Regions from separate parts of the Homo sapiens genome. Here region 2 is linked to region 1. Evidence: fine-mapped expression QTL. A gene starts in region 1. The other region holds a variant in brackets. All regions are shown on one strand. Distances are between the middles of the regions.

Evidence for each region. PIP is the estimated chance that this variant, and not a neighbour inherited with it, causes the effect.
Region 2: its variant is fine-mapped to the expression of GAREM2 in lung (TOPMed, PIP above 0.99). The same link has a PIP of 0.9 or more in whole blood.

The regions. Positions count from the first base shown.
Region 1 is chr2:26,170,209-26,175,572 of GRCh38, reverse strand. It overlaps GAREM2 (GRB2 associated regulator of MAPK1 subtype 2), which reads right to left and starts at 2,485. Exons shown (of 6, transcript NM_001168241.2): 1 at 2,241-2,485. The coding sequence starts at 2,352. RefSeq lists an enhancer at 1-23.
Region 2 is chr2:26,256,823-26,262,186 of GRCh38, reverse strand. All of the region lies in intron 3 of HADHB (hydroxyacyl-CoA dehydrogenase trifunctional multienzyme complex subunit beta), which reads right to left. Among named protein-coding and RNA genes, the nearest start is that of HADHB, 15 kb to the right of the region's middle. The variant T/C (reference allele first, on the strand shown) is at 2,926.

The DNA.
Region 1 (5,364 bases):
TCAAGGGGACCTCGAAGGAGAGGGGGGAGTCCCCAGAAACCCCCAACCCCATCTCAGAGAAGCAGCTCCTTGACACCCCCTCCCCACGCCCCCTCATCCTCCCAGTTACAGGGGTGACGGCTGAGGGTTGGAGGGGTTGAGAGAGCAGGTTTAGAAGGCAGGAGTGGGAGGCCCAGCCCTGGGGCCTGGGGGAAGCTGCTCTGGGGCAGAGGTGTTGGGAGTTGGGAGGGGTCTGGGCCTGGAGGCGCCAACCCCAGCAACGGTTTCCAGGGGAGCAGGAGGGGCAGCCCAGCTTCCAGGAGGCAGAAGGGGCTGTGTCCGGGCTGCAGCTGGTGGGGAGGGTGGGGGTAGGGAGTACCTCCTTCCTTTCTCCTTCAGGCACAACTTACAAAATTTCTGCCAATCAAATGGGAAATGGTTTACTCTGATGGCTGGGGGCTCCATAAAATGTGTACATGTGGGGTAGGCGTGTGTGTGTATGTGTGTGTGTGTGTGTGGCAGGGTGGCGGGCGGTTCAAGACGCACAGGAAGGGCCTGGCCCCCACTATGTGTGTGTTGGGGGTGTTGTCTAAGCTTTCCCCTGTACCTCCTCACCTCCGGGGGCCCAAGAAGCTCTCCTCCAACTCTGCTCCCTCCTCTGAGAGCTGTCCTGGGTCCTAGCCCCATCTTCACAGCCACATGGGCACACAGCAGTAATCATGGCTCATGACCACCAACAGCTGAACCACAATAGCCCACAGTGACAGATGCTTGTCACCCAAACAACATAACTCAGTCTCCGGCCAAGGGGCCCCTCCCAAATGCACAGGCACACAGGGACCTACCCTTCAAGCCATACAATTCTGACCAGACATTCACACCCTGATGGTGACCCAGCCATAGCCACACACTGTCACACACAACAGACAGCTGGGCCATCACACCAGTTGTTCATTCACTCACCCATTCATTCAATCCATAATCTTTATTGGGCAAGGATGCCTGGTCTCAAGGAGCCCACAGCCAGGTCTAAAGACAATAAACTGACTGACCATTATAATGGGGTGCACAGTAGGAGACAAGCCAGAGTTGGCATGAGGTGGCCGGGGAGCCCAAAGGAGGCCCTACGCAGACCGAGGAGCTCAGAAAAGCTGCCCAGAAAGGGGAGATGCCAAAAAGGATGTGTGGGAAGTGGCCAGAAGACCCCAGGGCAGCGACCTCCATTCACAGGCAGACACAGTACCACACTCTGACCACTCGGCCGCGAGCCAGAGAACTAGACGCTGGCCTGCCCGACGGCGGGGCGCCGATGCTCCCCCATGAGCCTGCTCCCGGGACAGCTGACGCCCACTGTGCCCACTCCTGGCCGCCACGGAGGAGGGGCTGCCGGGCCCCACGGGGAGACGAGGAGCCTGCGGCCGCGGGCCCCATTAGCATTCATGGAAGCGAGTGTGCCAACGCGGGCCAAACCCCTATTCTTCTCACACACAAAACCCCCGGCCTGGCTGCCAGCCCCGGCTACCGCCCATCCCCCAACCAAGCAGCACCCCCCTCCCCCCAAACGGTCCCCTCGCTCCATGCAGCCTCCGGGCGTACCCTCTCGGGCCCCCATGCGTGGTTCCATCAGCCGAGCGGCTGGGGGCCCCAGGTCCTATTAAGAAGTGGGACAAGATTCGGGGGAGGGCCGGGAGTTTGGGGGTCACGCCGGGCAGCAGACCCGGCTCCCGCCGGCCTCTCCCGAAGGTGGCCTGCCCGCCCCAGGACCGAGGCTGCTCCTAGGGAAGAGAAAGGAGGTGCAAGAAGGGTCCCCAGAGGGGCGGAGCAGGACTAGGGGTGGCGGTAAGGGGAAGACAGAGTCCGGGTCCCAGGGATGAGGGAAGACAGAGGTGAGAGGCCAGGGACAAAGGGACCAAGGGGGCGCGGCCGGGGCGGGGGGCCCAGGGGCAGCGGGGGAAAGGGGGGCAACCGACGGGGCGGGAGCAGGGGCTCGGCCCCTTTCCGGACTCCAGCTGGGCGGGAAAACTCTGTCCCGGGCCCTGTCCCCGGTGTCTGTGCCTGTGCTTGTCCGCGGGGCCCAGGAGGCGGACCTGGCGGGTGGGCCCCGCGTCTCCCGGGAGGCGCGCCAGGAACCGCTCGGGGCCCACGCCGGGGAGCTGGGAGGGTGCGGGTGCCGCACCCTCCTCACGATCCCTCTGGCCCCTGGCTGGAGAGCCCACCATTTCCCCGCGGACCCCGGTCCCCATCTCCAGCGACCCCGGTACCTGGCCCAAGGCAGGCGAGCGTGGGCAGGCGGCAGCGGCTGACGATGAGGTCGAGCGGGAAGGCGCCCATGCTCCAGCGCAGGCCGGCCAGCCCGGCCGCCAGCTTCTCCATGGCATGGGCGCCCCGGGGCCGCCGTCCCGGGGCCCCGACGGTCAGTCCCGCGCGGCCCAGGCTCTCGCGCCCGCCGCCACCTCCCGGGGCCGCCGCGGCGCTCGCCGCCTGGCAGCCCCGCCGGGCCGCGGGCGTCACGTGGCCGGCCTCCCCGCAGGGCGCCGACCCCGGCCCCGCCCCCGGGCCCCGCCCCCTCCTCCCGGACCCCGGCCCCCTCCTCCCGGACCCCCGCCCCCTGCTCTGTCCGCCCCGACCCGGACTCGCCGCCGGACCCACCCCCGGACCTCCGCCCCCAGCCCTGTCCGCCCTGCCCCGCCCCGGCCCCCTCTCCTCGGACCCCGTCCCCGCGCCCCCTTCTGGGACCCCGGGTCCCCAGCCCCGCGCTCCGTCCGCCCGCCCCTGCCCCCGCTCCCCGGCCCCCACCCGCCGCTGCCGCCAAGCCCCGCCTCCCCTCCCGCCAGCTTCCCCGCGCCCAGGTGACGGCGGGTGATGGAGGACCCCAGGGCGGGCGCCTGGAGGGACAACGAAGTCCCGAGCGGCATCTGCGGAGTCGGCGCGGGGTCGGCCTCCTCCTTCTGGCTGGGTGTGTCCGGGCCCCGCCGCTCCCCCTCGTGCTGGCCTCCCGGAGGCCGCGCCCACCCGCGCCCTGTCCTGCTCCGCCGCCCAAAGCTCGGGTTCTGAATTCTGCTCTTCCAGGACCTTCATCACCTCCGGCTCCGTGGAGCTGGGCGAGGCAGCCTCCTTAACCCCATTTTACTGATGAGCAAACTGAGGGGCAGAGGTCAGGTGGCAGCCAGGACTTCAACCTAGGTTGGACTTCAACCCAGATTTGACTCCAACCCTACTGCCCAAGAGCACCCTACAGCGCCCCACCATAGAGCACCTTCCACGTTCCCAGCGCCCCCTTAGCCGATAGCCCTGTGTCATGTAAACCGGCGCTCCAACCCTTCCACAGCACGCGGTGTGGACTGCGTCCATTCTGCAGATGAGGAGGCCGAGGTTCGAGGGCGTAACCGGTGCTGCGGTCTCCTCTCGGATCATTACAAGAACCGCCTTCCTCCCCCACCGCCACCATCCCTTCTCTCTTTTCCTTCTCTTTTTTTGAGACTGGGTCTCACTCTATCACCCAGCCTGGAGTGCAGTGGCGCGATCTCGGCTCACTGCAACCCCCACCTCCCGGGCTCAAGCGATCCTCCCACCTCAGCCTGCGGAGTAGCTGGGATGACAGGCACCTGCCACCACTCCTGGCTAATTTTTTTGTATTTTTAGTAGAGACGGCGTTTCACCATGTTGGCCAGGCTGGTCTTGAACTCCTGACCTCAAGCGATCCTCCCGACTCGGCCTCCCAAAGTGCTGGACTTACAGGCGTAAGCCACCGCGCCCAGCCTTCGTTCCCTTCTTTTAATTTGCGTTTCCTTTTCTGCTGTCCTCACCTCTTCCTTCCAAGCCCCCTGGACTCCAGCTCGGGGCCTCCCTTTGGGACCCCCTTCCCAGAAGCTTAGATGGCCTCGGCCTCGGCCTCGCCCTCTCTGTGTCTGCGGCGCCCTCTGCAGGTAATTGGGGGATGATGCGGGCCTGGCTGATCTCGCGGAGCCAGCGGGCCTTAGTCCCTAGGCTGCTCCCTCACGGGAGTGTAGTGGCACGATCTCGGCTCACTGCAACCTCCGCCCCGCAGGTTCAAGCAATTCTCCTGCCTCAGCTTCCTGAGTAGCTGGAATTACATATGTAGCTGGGATTACAGACAAGCACCACCATGCCCGGCTAATTTTTCACCTGGCTAATTTTTGTATTTTTAGTAGAGACAGGGTTTCGCCATGTTGGCCAGGCTGGTCTCGAACTCCGAACTCAAGTGATCCACCCGCCTCGATCCATCAGTCCTCAGCCTCGGTACCCCCGGAAGAACCCCACCAAATACAAACAAAACCCTCTCTTCTGAGGTGACTGACACCTGGCATCTTATGGCTCGAACCCCATGAGAAATGGCAGCCGACAAGATGAACACCACTTCTCAGCGAGAAGAGACGTTTTAGATCAGTGGTTCAATCCTCAACTGCTGCAGAGGAAAAAACTGAGACTCCAAGAGCAGAAATGCTTTGCTCTAAGGTCACACGGCAAGAAAGAGGCAGCGCTGCGACCAGAAGGCAGGACCCCCACCTACCAACTTGACCGAGGCCCTTCCCCAGCCTGGCCCAAACCCAGCCCGCTCACCCTGGCCAGGGAGGAGCTGCTCACCCCGGTGACTCAGGCAGCCCAGATGGACTCCGCTCTCCTGAGTCTGTAGGGGTGGGGTGGGTTCTTTCCCAGGGAAGTGGGAAGGTGAAGCCTGGCAGGAGAAGAAAAGAAAATACAGTGAAAATATAGGAGTCTTAAGAAGGGAATGGGCCAGGCGCGGTGGCTCACACCTGTAATCTCAACAGTTTGGCAGGCCAAGGCAGGTGGATCACTTGAGGTCAGGAGTTCGAGACCAGCCTGGCCAACATGGTGAAACCCTGTCTCTACTAAAAATACAAAAATTATCCAGGCAAAAAATTAGCCGGGCATGGTGGTGCTTGTCTGCCACTCCAGGTACATCTGTAATCCCAGCTACTCAGGAAGCTGAGGCAGGAGAATTGCTTGAACCTGGGAGGCGGAGGTTGCAGTGAGCCGAGATCGTGCCACTACACTCCAGCCTGGGTGACAGAGCGAAACTCCATCTCAAAAAAAAAAAAAAAGAAAAGAAGGGAATGGAAGGTCTGAGACAGGAGGGCGAAAAGGCCGGAAGAAGCAAGTGAATGAGAAGGGTGCTGCCTTAGATTCACTTTTCTTCCCCTACCCTGTAGGGTCTCTCTTTAGGGTGACCGTGTGTCATCCTAACTGGGAGACTTTTAAGAGGGAAGCCGGTACTAACCACCTCCCCACCCAGCTAGGACAACAGGTGCAGGTAGCCTGGGCTCCAGACAGCAGGTATAAACTGGCATTGAGCCACGTGGTCACCTTCTCCCTGCGCCCTGGACAGAGACGCCACATCTACGG
Region 2 (5,364 bases), 87 kb before region 1:
CACACCTGTTAATGTCACAGAGAAGTATTTATAGTAAACATCTACAACCAACTTTAAAGAAATATTAGTGAGAGTTAATAGTCATGATAAAATAGGGCATAAAGATGACGCTGGCAGCATTCATGGAGAAGTGCTGCTGGTGAAGGAGATAAAGGCAACAAGGAGGTAAGCAAAGAGACTGTGGCAAACCCAAGCATGTGGCACAAAAGGCCAGGATAAAGGCAGTATCAACATGAGTAAAGAGGAAGTTTATAAAAGAAAACAAGGTATGTTGGCAACCAATCAGATATAGAAAGAAAGGAAAGAGGAAAACAGGATTATAAAGGAATCTTAGAGACTAAGAATACCTAGCTACCCGAAACAAAGTGAGAACTGGTTTTGGAAAAAAAAGGGGACTTAATTTTTTTTTTTTGAGATGATGCCTTGCTCTGTCGCCAAGGCTGGAGTGCTGTGGCACGATCTCGGCTAACTGCAACCTCCACTTCCCAGGTTCAAGCAATTCTCCTGCCTCAGCCTCCCAAGCAGTTGGGATTACAGGCACACGACACCACACCTGGCTAGTTTTTATATTTTTAGTAAAGATGGGGTTTTACCTTGTTTGCCAGGCTGGTCTTGAACTCCTGACCTCAAGTGATCCGCCAGCCTTGGCTTCCCAAAGTGTTGGGATTACCGGCATAAGGCACTGCGCCTGGCCTCATTTTTAAACTCGCTAACTTTGAGGTGACAGAGAGACAACCAGGTGGATATGTTAATTCCACAGTTAGCTAGAAGATGCAAAGCAAAACCTCTGAAGAGAAATGAGTGTAGATTAGAAAGTCATGAAATATTGAAGCTTAGAATACAGAAGGAAAGCAGAGATGTATTCTGCAATGCCTGTTCTCCCACAGCCCCCTCTATTTCTTTTATTTTTAAATTTCCTATTTCCTCTTTAACAATAAAAGATACTTTTTTTGTTTGTCTGGATGGGGGGGGGGTATTTGTTGTGTTGTTGTTGTTTTGGACATCCCACAGGCCCCTCTAAAGGGAGTTGCCCTGCTTACAGTCCCTGCCAAAGGGGAAGCCATAGACACATCCCTAAGTCAATATAAAAGCTGATTAGATTCAGAGTAGGTACTGGACTCACCAATGATCCATCCATATAGGAGCCAACCAGAAACCAGTGTCATCTACCTACAAGTGATCAACTGTGTTGGTCAGATTCTCTCTCTAGGCAAAGAAGCATGGAAAGAAATGCCAATTAGTTGAAGCTAAAAAGATGCCATGAGGAAGAACAGGTTGATGGTAAACTGATGTCATTCGTAAGCCAGAGTTTGTAAACCATAAGTGAGCAAATAAGCCAGCCAGAATGAAGAATGATAGAAGCAGAAAGACCAGGAAAGGGACATACCATGTGGTGTGTGAGACAAAGTAGCTGGCCCCTAGAGCTGCTTGCTTGGTTCCTAACACCTTTCCAGCTGTAGTACACACAAACCTTCTCATCCTTAACTTGAGGGTCCATTACTACACCAAAAAACCCTTAGCTTTGTGATGTCCCTACAATGAGAAGGCTGAGGGAATATGTGAGACAAACAGTAACTTGAGAGGTAGTAGGAGAATCAAGAGAGAACAGTACACAAGATCAAAGGCAGGAGAGTGTCAAGGAGAACAAGATGGTTAAATGCATCGGTCCTCAAGGAAAATCCTTATTTGAGCAGACAGAAAACAGGTCACTAAATTTGAAGATTTGCACACTATTCATGACTGACCTTGCAGGTGACAGGTCGAATGGTACACCATCATGTCATTCCACATTTTAAAAACTAACCAAGCCAGGCGTGCTGGCTCACGCTGTAATCTCACCGCTTTGGGAGGCTGAGGCAGGCAGATCATTTGAGGTCAGGAGTTCAAGACCAGCCTGGCCAACATGGTGAAACCCCGTCTCTACTAAAAATACAAAAATTAGCTGGGCACGGTGGTACGCTCCTATAATCCCAGCTACTGGGGAGGCTGAGGCAGGAGAATGGCTTGAACACAGGAGGTGGAGGTTGCCGTAAGCTGAGATCATGCCACTGCACTCCAGCCTGGGTGACAGAGCAAGACTCTGCCTCAAAAAAAAAAAAAAAAAACCAGAAAAAACTGACCATATATTCCTTTTATATACTTTCAGATAAAATTCAAATTCTTAACTCTTCTAACAAATAGCTTGTTTTACTCGGTTCCACCTTAAGTATTTTCCACTACTTCTCAAAATAGAACAAGATGAGCCAGCCCCCAGTCCTTTACAGCTTTGCTCAGGTCAGCCTCCTTGCCTTTACTTATGGACCTCCCATCTGCCTGGCCCCTTTTTTGCCCATCGAATTCTTACCTGTCTCTTGGGCCTCGTTCACATTCTACCTCCTAGTAAAGCCTTCCCTGATAACTACAGTTACTGATGATTCCTGCCTCTAAACCTCTGGGCAACCTCTAGGGCACACTGGCCATTCCAAATAATTTAGCATATTATAAAGTAATTAAACTAACTCTACAAGGCACATTTAAAAAATATTCATTATTATATGTAGGAGATCAGTCGGAGTGGTGGGAGAAACTATAGGGAAAGATGCAGGCCTTCTAAAAGGTCAGAAGGTTCTGCAGAGCCCTGGGGGAGAATAGCTGAAGGCAGCTGTTCTATAACCCTGAGGCAGAGGGCAAGGAGTAGGTACAAGGGAGTGTAGGGGAACGTATCTTAAACTAGCTTATTTATGTTGACCAGGAGCTGATCTTTGATCATCCATGCAAGACGTTCCTGGAAGGGGAGAAATAAACGTTAATTACCCACAGATTGTGTTTGCTCCAGGCTTTCATCACTGTGCCTACACTGAATAAAAGCAAGGAGCTCCAGCTTCTCAGGGCTGCTGCACTTTGGCCACTAGAGCCAGGCAGACCCCTAGCTGCTCTTACACTGCA[T/C]ACCTGTGTCTGAGTACTCATTTCATCTGTCAGTCAGCCAGGGTCTGTGGGACAGACCCGGCAGGTGGTGCCCCGTGTGAGACATGCTGCAATGGATCACGACAGAACCCTTGAAAATGAAAGTGAAGTGACCGTGCAGTAAGTAATTGGTGCCCACTCAGGATTTCCAAGTTCGAGGGGATTTTCAAGCTAGGGTTTCATCATGGGACATGATGTTCAAGCTAGGGTTTCATCATGGTGAGAGGGTTTCATCATGGTGAGAGGCAGGACTAGCTGGATTTCCTAGGCCGACTAAGAATTCCTAAGCCTAGCTGGGGAAGGTGACTGCACCCACCTTTAAACACGGGGCTTGTAACTCAGCTCACACTCGACCAATCAGGTGGTAAAGAAGGCTCACTAAAATATCAATTAGGTTAAAAGCAGGAGGTAAAGAAATACTCAAATCATCTATCATCTGAGAGCACAGGGGGAGCGACAATGATTGGGATATAAACCCCAGGCATTTGAGCAAGGAGGGGCAACCCCCTTTGGATCCCCTACCCTTGTATAGCAGCTCTGTTTTCACTTTATTAAATCTTGCAACTGCACACTCTTCTGGTCCATGTTTGTTCTGGCTCGAGCTGAGCTTTTGCTCACCTTCCACCACTGCTGTTCGCCACTGTCACAGACCCGCTGTTCGCCACTGTCGCAGACCCGCTGTTGACTTCCACCCCTCGGATCTGGCAGGGTGTCCGCTGCGTTTCTGATCCAGCGAGGCACCCAGTGCCATTCCTGTTTGGGCTAGAGGCTCGCCATTGTTTCTGTGCGGCCAAGTGCCCAGGTTCGTCCTAATCGAGCTCAACGCTAGTCGCTGGGTTCCACGATTCTCTTCCATGACCCATGGCTTCTAATAGAGCTATAACACTCACTGCATGGCCCAAGGTTCCATTCCTTGGAATCCATGAGGCCAAGAGCCTCAGGTCAGAGAAAAAAAGGCTTGCCGCCATCTTGGGAGCCGCCTGCCCCATCTTGGGAGCTCTAAGAACAAAGGCCCACCCGTAACAATGGGACTTGAGTTATCAGCTCAACAGCAACAGTACATAAAAGTATTGAAACAGCTGCTTGAAGCTAGCACAGCCTCCGTTTCGGAGGCTCAGTTAAGGGACCTAATGCAAACTGTTGTTTTCCATAACCCACGGTTCCCAGAAGAAGGCACACTAGACCTAGAGTTCTGGGAACAAGTTGGAAGAAATCTTTTTTTTTTTGAGACAGAGTCTTGCTCTGTCCCCAGGCTAGAGTACAGTGGCACGATCTCGGCTCACTGCAAGCTCTGCCTCCAGGGTTCACACCATGCTTCTGCCTCAGCCTCCCAAGTAGCTGGGATTACAGGCGCCCGCCACCACGCCCGGCTAATTTTTTGTATTTTTAGTAGAGACAGGGTTTCACTGTGTTTGCCAGGATGGTCTCCATCTCTTGACCTCGTGATCCGCCTGCCTCAGCCTCCCAAAGTGCTGGGATTACAGGTGTGAGCCATCACGCCCAGCCACAAGTGGGAAGAAATCTTAAATGACATCATGCACAAGGGCAACAGGTCCCAGTAACATCTTTAACGTTGTGGGCCTTAGTTAGGGCTGCTTTGGCCCTGCTCTACACAGAAGAGCCTAAAAAGAGAAGCGAAGAGGAACCATCACCTACCTTACCACCTCCTCCTCCCTCAGCCCCGCCGTTACTGGGTAAAGGTGCCACAGAGGAGACAGAGGTTTTTCCTGAGCCCCCTCCCCCAATAAACTGGGAAGAAGACAATGGATATACTACAGTTATGGGACCCTGTCTTAGGCAAGCAGCATTAGAAGGGGAGCTCTTGGCCGGGTGTGGTGGCTCATGCCTGTAATCCCAGCACTTTGGGAGGCCGAGGTGGGCAGATCACGAGGTCAGGAGATCGAGACCATCCTGGCTAACACGGTGACACCCCATCTCTACTAAAAGTACAAAAAATTAGCCAGGTGTGTTGGCGGGCACCTGTAGTCCCAGCTACTCAAGAGGCTGAGGCAGGAGAATGGCATGAACCTGGGAGGCAGAGCTTGCAGTGAGCCGAGACTGTGCCACTGCACTCCAGCCTGGGCGACAGCACGAGACTCTGTCTCAAAAAAAAAGAAAAAAAAAAAAAAAGAAGGGGAGCTCTTAGCCTTCCCAGTGACGCAAGATCAACAAGGCAATCAGGTACATGAACCCATTACTTTCAACACTTATAAATAAATAAGAAAAAGCATTAGAGAAAACAGAGCCACTAGCACATTTACGAGAGGACTGATTGAGGCCACAGCAGAAAACTACCATATGACCCCTTTCTAATAATGGCCAATTATGTATTCAATAGTCACCTAAGGACTCTCATTCTGCTTCATGTGCACACTGGCTCCTAAGCACATCAAAATTTTCTCAAGACAATACAGCTCCATT